Homo sapiens: one gene and its partner. Changing the gene in region 1 together with any one later gene gives a genetic interaction. Each region holds a gene or a part of one and is shown on either strand. Other genes may lie near its edges.

What was found.
Region 2: changes in PRKCZ (region 1) and PTPRZ1 together harm fitness more than expected from each alone (negative genetic interaction), as found in Homo sapiens cells (one large-scale study listed by BioGRID).

Annotation. Positions count from the first base shown.
Region 1 is NC_000001.11:2,147,778-2,151,426, reverse strand, and holds part of PRKCZ (protein kinase C zeta type), read right to left. Parts: intron 2,556-3,649; coding exon 2,503-2,555; intron 638-2,502; coding exon 449-637; intron 1-448. UniProt on the Homo sapiens protein: Calcium- and diacylglycerol-independent serine/threonine-protein kinase that functions in phosphatidylinositol 3-kinase (PI3K) pathway and mitogen-activated protein (MAP) kinase cascade, and is involved in NF-kappa-B activation, mitogenic signaling, cell proliferation, cell polarity, inflammatory response and maintenance of long-term potentiation (LTP).
Region 2 is NC_000007.14:121,871,622-121,875,370, reverse strand, and holds the start of PTPRZ1 (receptor-type tyrosine-protein phosphatase zeta isoform 1 precursor), read right to left. Parts: upstream 2,211-3,749; 5' UTR 1,872-2,210; coding exon 1,814-1,871; intron 1-1,813. UniProt on the Homo sapiens protein: Protein tyrosine phosphatase that negatively regulates oligodendrocyte precursor proliferation in the embryonic spinal cord. Required for normal differentiation of the precursor cells into mature, fully myelinating oligodendrocytes.

The DNA of each region.
Region 1 (3,649 bases):
GTCTGCTGGAAGGCAACGTATCAGTGGTTGGCCATACATGAGAAGGTTGCAGAGACCACGATACCCATCTTCACCTTTTCTAAGCTTAGACACGTGAGTGCTCTCGTGGTGGTCCCCTCACTGCCTGCAGTGTGCAGTGCACTAACAGCCGTACGGGCTTGCAGCCTGGGAGCAGGAGCTGCACTGTGCATCTTGGCTGTGGAGTTGGCTGTGCTGTTTGGGTTTGTGGAGTGCACACTGTGATGTTCACACAACAGTGCCATTACCTAACCAGGCACTTTCCAGAACACATCCTGGTCATTACACGATGCATGACTATTGATTTTGCACAAACTCCGTCAACGTGAGGCTAGGTCTCTCGTGCATGGATTAATTCCGCTAAAGCCCGGAGGAGGCCCCAGGGCAGCGCGTTCCCGGGCCCCCGGGCCCCATGAGAAGCGGCACCTACCTCGTCATCATGCACCAGCTCTTTCTTCACCACTTTCATGGCGTAAATTTGGTCATTCTTCTTCAACCGCACCAGGAGAACCTTGGCGTAGCTCCCGCGCCCGATGACTCTGATTAGGTCAAAGTCCTGCAGCCCAAGCCCCTGAGAGATTTTGATTCCATCCATCCCATCGATAACTGGCTTAAGGTCCTAGGGAGGGAGAACAAGACCCCAGAAAGTGAGAGGGGGGTTCCCGGGAGACTCAGAGGACCACGCATCACTCATGCGGTCCCAACAGAGACCTGCTCCTCAGAGCCCAGGGCCTCATGATTCGAGTCTCAGTTCTGCGTCCCACATATCCCACCCCCAAACTCCCATCTAAACTGGGGCATGAAAGGTAAGAATTTAAGGCTGTGTGCTTCTGAGGAAGGTGCTAGAAAGCTAGAAGCTGTTCGTTCCACAGACCATGGCTCTGGTCACAGCTGCAGGTGGGAGGGACCCCCAGGCCCTCAGCCCTATCAGTGGGGCTGAAGAGGTGGCCACAGGGACATGTGGCCCAGGGCCTGGGCCCATCCTTCCTGATCAGTGCCCTCCCTCAGGGGAAGGAAGGTAAAGCGAATGCAGCTAATGCCTGCCAAGAGCTCCCAAACCGGCAGGCACACATTATTAGAAATAATTATTAGAAATACCCAGGAGAAAGGCGCTCCGAGGAAGAACAGAAGCCTCTGCCTCCCGCAAGCTACACCTGGCAAGGAGGTCGGGGTGGAGGAGGCGGTTCCTTGGGAGGTGCTGTTCTGTGCGGCAAAATGGATTCTGCTTTTTTTTTTTTTTTTTTTTTGAGACGGAGTCTGGCTCTGTCGCCCAGGCTGGAGTGCAGTGGCACGATCTCGACTCACTACAAGCTCCACCTCCCGGGTTCACGCCATTCTCCTGCCTCAGCCTCCCCAGTAGCTGGGACTACAGGCGCCCGCCACCACGCCCAGCTTTTTTTTTTTTTGTATTTTTAGTAGAGACGGGGTTTCACCGTGTTAGCCAGGATGGTCTCCATCTCCTGACCTCGTGATCTGCCCGCCTCAGCTTCCCAAAGTGCTGGGATTACAGGCGTGAGCCACCGCGCCCAGCCGGATTCTGCTTTTTTTGAGACAGACTCTTCCTCTGTCGCCCAGGCTGGAGTGCAGTGGTGCGATCTCAGCTCACTGCAGCCTCCACCTCCCAGGCTCAGGCGATCCTCCCACCTCAGCCTCCCAAGCAGCTAGGACCACAGGCCCGTGCCACCATGCCCAGCTAATTATTTTGTATTTATTTTTGTAGGAACAGGGTCTCGCTATGCTGCCCAGGCTGTTCTCGAGCTCCTGGACTCAAGCGATGTGCGCAGCCTCCCAAAATGCTGGGATTGGAGGTGTGAGTCGCCGTGCTCAGCCTCAGATTCTGCTTTCTAAGTGCCCCGGCCTCCCTCCAGACACAGGATGGCCAGGAAGGAGCACGAGTTGTGAGGGTGACACTTGTTGGTGCTCTGGAAAGGAGTGGGCTTCGCTAGTGCAGTCCTTCCCTGGGTTTTACGAGCAGAGGCTGAGAACGCAGCAAGCTCTTCTGTTCCCTTCTCAGGGTTTATGGTGCAGAGCTGGCCACAGACGTGAGGCTCAGTTGAGCCTCTTGGCTCAAGTTGGGGAAGGACATGAAAGGGCTTCAGAGGGTTTGCCAGGATGGCCAAATGAGGCAACACAATTCGGAAGGCATGGTGCAGACACAACTTGATAAAAATTGCAGCTCAAAAGCCAGCCCCTGGGCCACTGTACCACCTGAATGGAGAGGATGTGGGGCACGGCTTCCCCCGCAGGGTGTGGTCCCCAGACCACCTGCGGGGACAGCTGCCTGCAGGTATTCATCAAGGACATGCCTGAAGTAAGACCCAAGAATAAGGACTTCCTTCTAGACATCCACACCCGTGAAGATTAGTTAGCAACACCCCGGACCATGTCTATTTCACATCTAGATTTCCGTGACTACCCCAGAGACAGGCTCACAGACTTTCCAGAGGACGTCGGAAATGGCAGCGAGCTGCTCCACACACTCACCTCCGAGTCGTCTTTAATGCTGTCATGCTTCCGGGATGAGGAAATGTAAGCAACTGGTGAGAGAGGGAGGAAGGAAGGGGCGTTACGGTGTGGTCAGGAACGCACTGGGAACACAGCGACCCTGTGGACCTTGCTCCTCTGCAGGGTGACGGTGAAGGGTGAATCCACACAGCAGCCATGTCTGATTCTAATTTAGAGTCTTCTGAAAATGCAGTTTCCTGGGCCCCACTCACACCTGCCGACTCTGACCATGGGACCTGGGGATGTACATTCGTGACATACGTCCCCAGGGGTCCATCTGCAAATAATTCGTCACCGGATTTTGGTGTCTAGTGAATGGGTGGGTAGGGGCAGGAGTGGATGTCTGGTGGATGGATGGAGGATGACTAGATGGGGGATGAATGGAGGCCTGGATAGAAGACGGATAGATGGAGAGGTCAGTGCACAATGGATGGATAGATGGAGAGGTCAGTGGACAATAGATGGATGGATAGATGGAGAGGTTAGTGGACAATAGATGGATGGATAGACGGAGAGGTCAGTGGACAATAGGTGGATAGATGGAGAGGTCAGTGGACAGTGGATGGACAGATGGAGAGGTCAGTGGACAATAGATGGATGGATAGATGGAGAGGTCAGTGGACAATAGATGGATAGATGGAGAGGTCAGTGGACAACAGATAGATGGATAGACGGAGAGGTCAGTGGACAACAGACGGAAAGATGGAGAGGTCAGTGGACAACAGACAGATGGGTGGACAGGTCAGTGGACAACAGACAGATGGATAGATGGAGACGTCAGTGGACAATAGATGGATGGATAGATGGAGAGGTCAGTAGACAATAGATGGATGGATAGATGGAGAGGTCAGTGGACAGTGGATGGATAGATGGAGAGGTCAGTGGACAATAGATGGATGGATAGATGGAGAGGTCAGTGGACAATAGATGGATAGATGGAGAGGTCAGTGGACAATAGATAGATGGATAGACGGAGAGGTCAGTGGACAACAGACGGAAAGATGGAGAGGTCAGTGGACTACAGACAGATGGGTGGACAGGTCAGTGGACAACAGATAGATGGACAGATGGAGACGTCAGTGGACAATAGATGGATGGATAGATGGAGAGGTCAGTGGACAATGGA
Region 2 (3,749 bases), on another chromosome or scaffold:
ATACTATAACATGGATGAAACTGAAAACATTATGCCAAGTGAACAAAGACAGACAGAAAAGGCCACAAGTTGCATGATTCTATTTATATGAAATGTCCAGGATAGGCAAATTTATAGAGACAGAAAGTAGATTAGTGGTTGCTAGGAGCTGGGGTCATGGAGAATGGGGAATGGCTGCTAAGGAACATGGGGTTTCTTTTTGGGGTCATTAAAACATTCTGGAATTAGTGGTGATGGCTGCACAACTTCACGAATATATTAAAAACCACTGGACCATTTTAAAAAGATGAATTGTATAATGTGTGAATTTTATCTTTTTTTTTTTTTCAAAGAGATCCGCAACATGCTCTGGGCATGTGGTTTTGAAGACATACAAAGCAATACTCTCTGGTTTATTTCCTTGCTACTGTGATATTTACTTACATAATTTAATTACTAAGAGGACCTGCCTTCTTTGTTAAAATAGATCTACAATAGAAATGTGAATTCAACAGATGTTTGATGACCACGTACTTTTTAAAGCTGTCTTCCCCTCTCCAGAACTGACTATAAGGTTTTAGAATCAATGGAGACCAGAGATTCCCTTGCATGTCTTATGTGTCAACTATGCATCACACCACCCCAAGCACTTTCATAAAGCCTTTGAAATTTAAATTATGTCCGTGTGTGGGGGTCTATGGGCAATTATCACCGTATTTGCAATGTAATTTTCATTTATTAGAACTTAAAAATAGTTTCTGTTTGTAAAGGTTACTGTGCCAAGAGCAGCACCATCTATTGGATGAAAATGTACGCTTAATATCTACTCTACTATGAACCATCTAAAATTGAAAAATTGGGAGCCTCTGAAAAGAATTAAATATGTGTACTCACAAAGCGAAGTACAACACTTTGTAACTTTCAGGTTAATGCGTAAACCCATTATATTCTATCGCGATGGAAAATCATGAAGGAAAAAAAGCATTTCTTTAATAAAACGCAAAAGTCCAATCTTGCACTTCTCGAAAATGACTGGAAAACTTGAGTCTGCATCGCAGGTAAAGGGAATGCTTAAACTGGCTATTGCTGAATGCAATTTCAGTTTTAAATGTAACCTGGAGGGTGCAGATGAAAAATGAAATCTGTGAATAAGTATATCAACCTGCAGCTCTCCTCTGACTTTGGCAGCACTGACCAAACCTAGAGATTTAGATGGAACTTTTTTTTTTGTAAGTAATTGCGCAGACTTGAATATGACTAAATTGAAAGTAATAAAAAAAACCCTGAAAAGTCAGGTTGGTGCTTGTGCCTGTTACTACCTTTCAGGTGTGTGTGTGTGTGTGTGTGTGTGTCTGCAATTCACACCAGACACGTGTACTTTCCATTTAAGCCCATCATACCTATAGCATAAAAATGAACAGCAAAAAAGACAGTACAGTACACAGCCCCGCACCACAGCTGTATTTCTGGTCATTTATCTTCCTATGTATATCTAAAAGGCGATTTCTACACTTTGCAAAAGAGGAGAGAAGAACGGTGGCGGCAGGGATCCGAGTAGCCCTCCGTCTCCAGTAGCTCCGTCTCCTGGGGCCCGGGGCACGAATGCCCGCGGGCCGATGGAAGGGGCGAGGGCGCGGGGCGGGGAGGGGGCGCGCAAATCCCACGCAGCTGCCTGCACCGCGCGGCCGCCCGCTCCGTGGGAGCCCAGTTGGCTGTCCCTTTTTCCTCCTGGCTAGATGGCGGCGGCGGCGGCAAGTCGCGGACACGCTGAAATGCTCCCACCCTCATCCCACCGATCCCGGAGCTGAAACCCCACCGAGCTCTTCTCACTCACCCAGGCGGCAAACACAGAGGAGCTGAATGCAAGCGAGGAAACGCTTTAGGATTCGCATTTCCAGACGGTCTGCGGCCCCTCGCCGTGCGGCTCCTCTGCTTCTCAGAGTGGAGAGGGAGGGGGAGCGAAGGAAATGTTTTTTTTGTTTGTTTGTTTTAATCCTCCAGTGTATAGATCGAAGTGAGATCGTGCGTGCGTATGTGTGTTTGTGTGTGTGTGTGTGTGTGTGAGAGAGAGAGAGACAGAGACAGAGACAGAGAGAGACAGTCAGAGACAGCGAGAGAGGAATAATCTGGAGAAAGCCGCACGGTGGTGGGGCCCGGGGCCGCTAGCCGAGGCGCATGTCCTCCGGCGTGCGGGACTTTGCCTCTTTCGCCGGCTGCGGCGGCCGCGGTCTGAGCGCTCCGAGAGCAGCGAAGCCTCAGTGCCGGGTGCGCGCTCCAGCCCGGCTGTGCGCGCCGCGGCTCCTGGAGGGGGCGGGGGCGCAGGACCGCTCCGCTGGGAGCGTGCCTCGGACCCGGGGTCGCGCGGGGGGCGGAGGGGCGCGGCTGCCGCTCTGGGTCCGGATCCCAGGGTAGCAATTCACACACCGACAATCCTCCCTCTGTCCGCTGCCAGTGGTTTCGCTGCCCTGGAGTTAGAGGGATCCGCTGGGGTTTCCAGTGTTCGCAGAACATTGGAACTCCTTCATCACTTCGGAAGGGAAGGGAAGGGAAGGCCGGACACCCATTGTCCCGCACAGCCAGAGGTTGACCTTTGAGTTTCACCTCTAAGAGTTTTTTTCATTTTATTGTTTTCTGCAGATGCTTAAGTGGGTCCAATCAGAATGCGGTGGGGGCGCCTGGGTACATTGTTTCCCTCCCTTTTTTCTTTCCATTTTCCTAATAAAGCAGTAGACCCCATTGCCTTTGGGAGAGTTGACTCCAAAAAATCTCCAGCCCTGATTGTGACCAGTCTGACCCTGCCCTTTCCCTAGACCCCAACGAAACTGCCGTGCTGGGCACAGCTGTCTGGGGGGACTTTCAACACGGCGGTGGTCCTGCCAGACCGAACCACACAAGTGCCTCCTCCCACAGGGTCGAACGGGAAGATTTTTTATTGCTTGATTGAAGGGTATGCAAAAAATGTATAATGCATACCTTCTGCTGCCTTAGAGCTGGAAATGTCACCCTCATGTGCTCTTTTCTTTGGTGGTGTTCAGAATTAGACTGTGAGCGCCTTGATGGCAGGGAGTTTACCTTTATTACTATAACCCCAGATCCTAGCAAAATGGCCTTAAAAAAAATCAATAGGTGTTCCCTGAATATTTGTTGAATTAATTTGAAGCCAAAAGGAAATAATGAGAAGGTAATTGGTGGTAGTCTCTACACTGAAAATTTATGAGATTTTCATTTATATGATATCCTTTAACTATTAGTACATGTTTTTCGTATATGAGACCCACTTTAGAGCCTTTTAGGAGTCCCATCTAAGGCACAGAAAGCCAAGTTGTGGAATTATCCCATGTATTCTTAGTAACAATTTGAAGTAGGTATCTGTACAGTGTATACTCTTGTGTCCTGTTCTTGTCTCAAAAATAGTATTCTAGCTTTAAAAATTTTAAAGAAAACTTCCTGCACATAAAATTGGGTTCTGAATGTATTTCAAGTGTTACTACGAGTTCTTGCTAATATCCCAGCCTGTGAACATTTGGCTAAATGTGCAAGCTAATGGCAGTTTGCTGTTGCTTCAGGAATAGATTATAGTCATGTAATAACAGATTTTGAAACCATTTAGTGTTTATTCAGAAACACATATCAATATTAAGAAGTTGATCCTTGATCTTATTCTTTCCATGAACAGAAATAGAAATGCTACAACTTTTACAAGAATTATGATGGGGATTGATGGCTGCTCATGTGAGTTTCCATATAGGAAGAAAATTTGGGGGCCATTT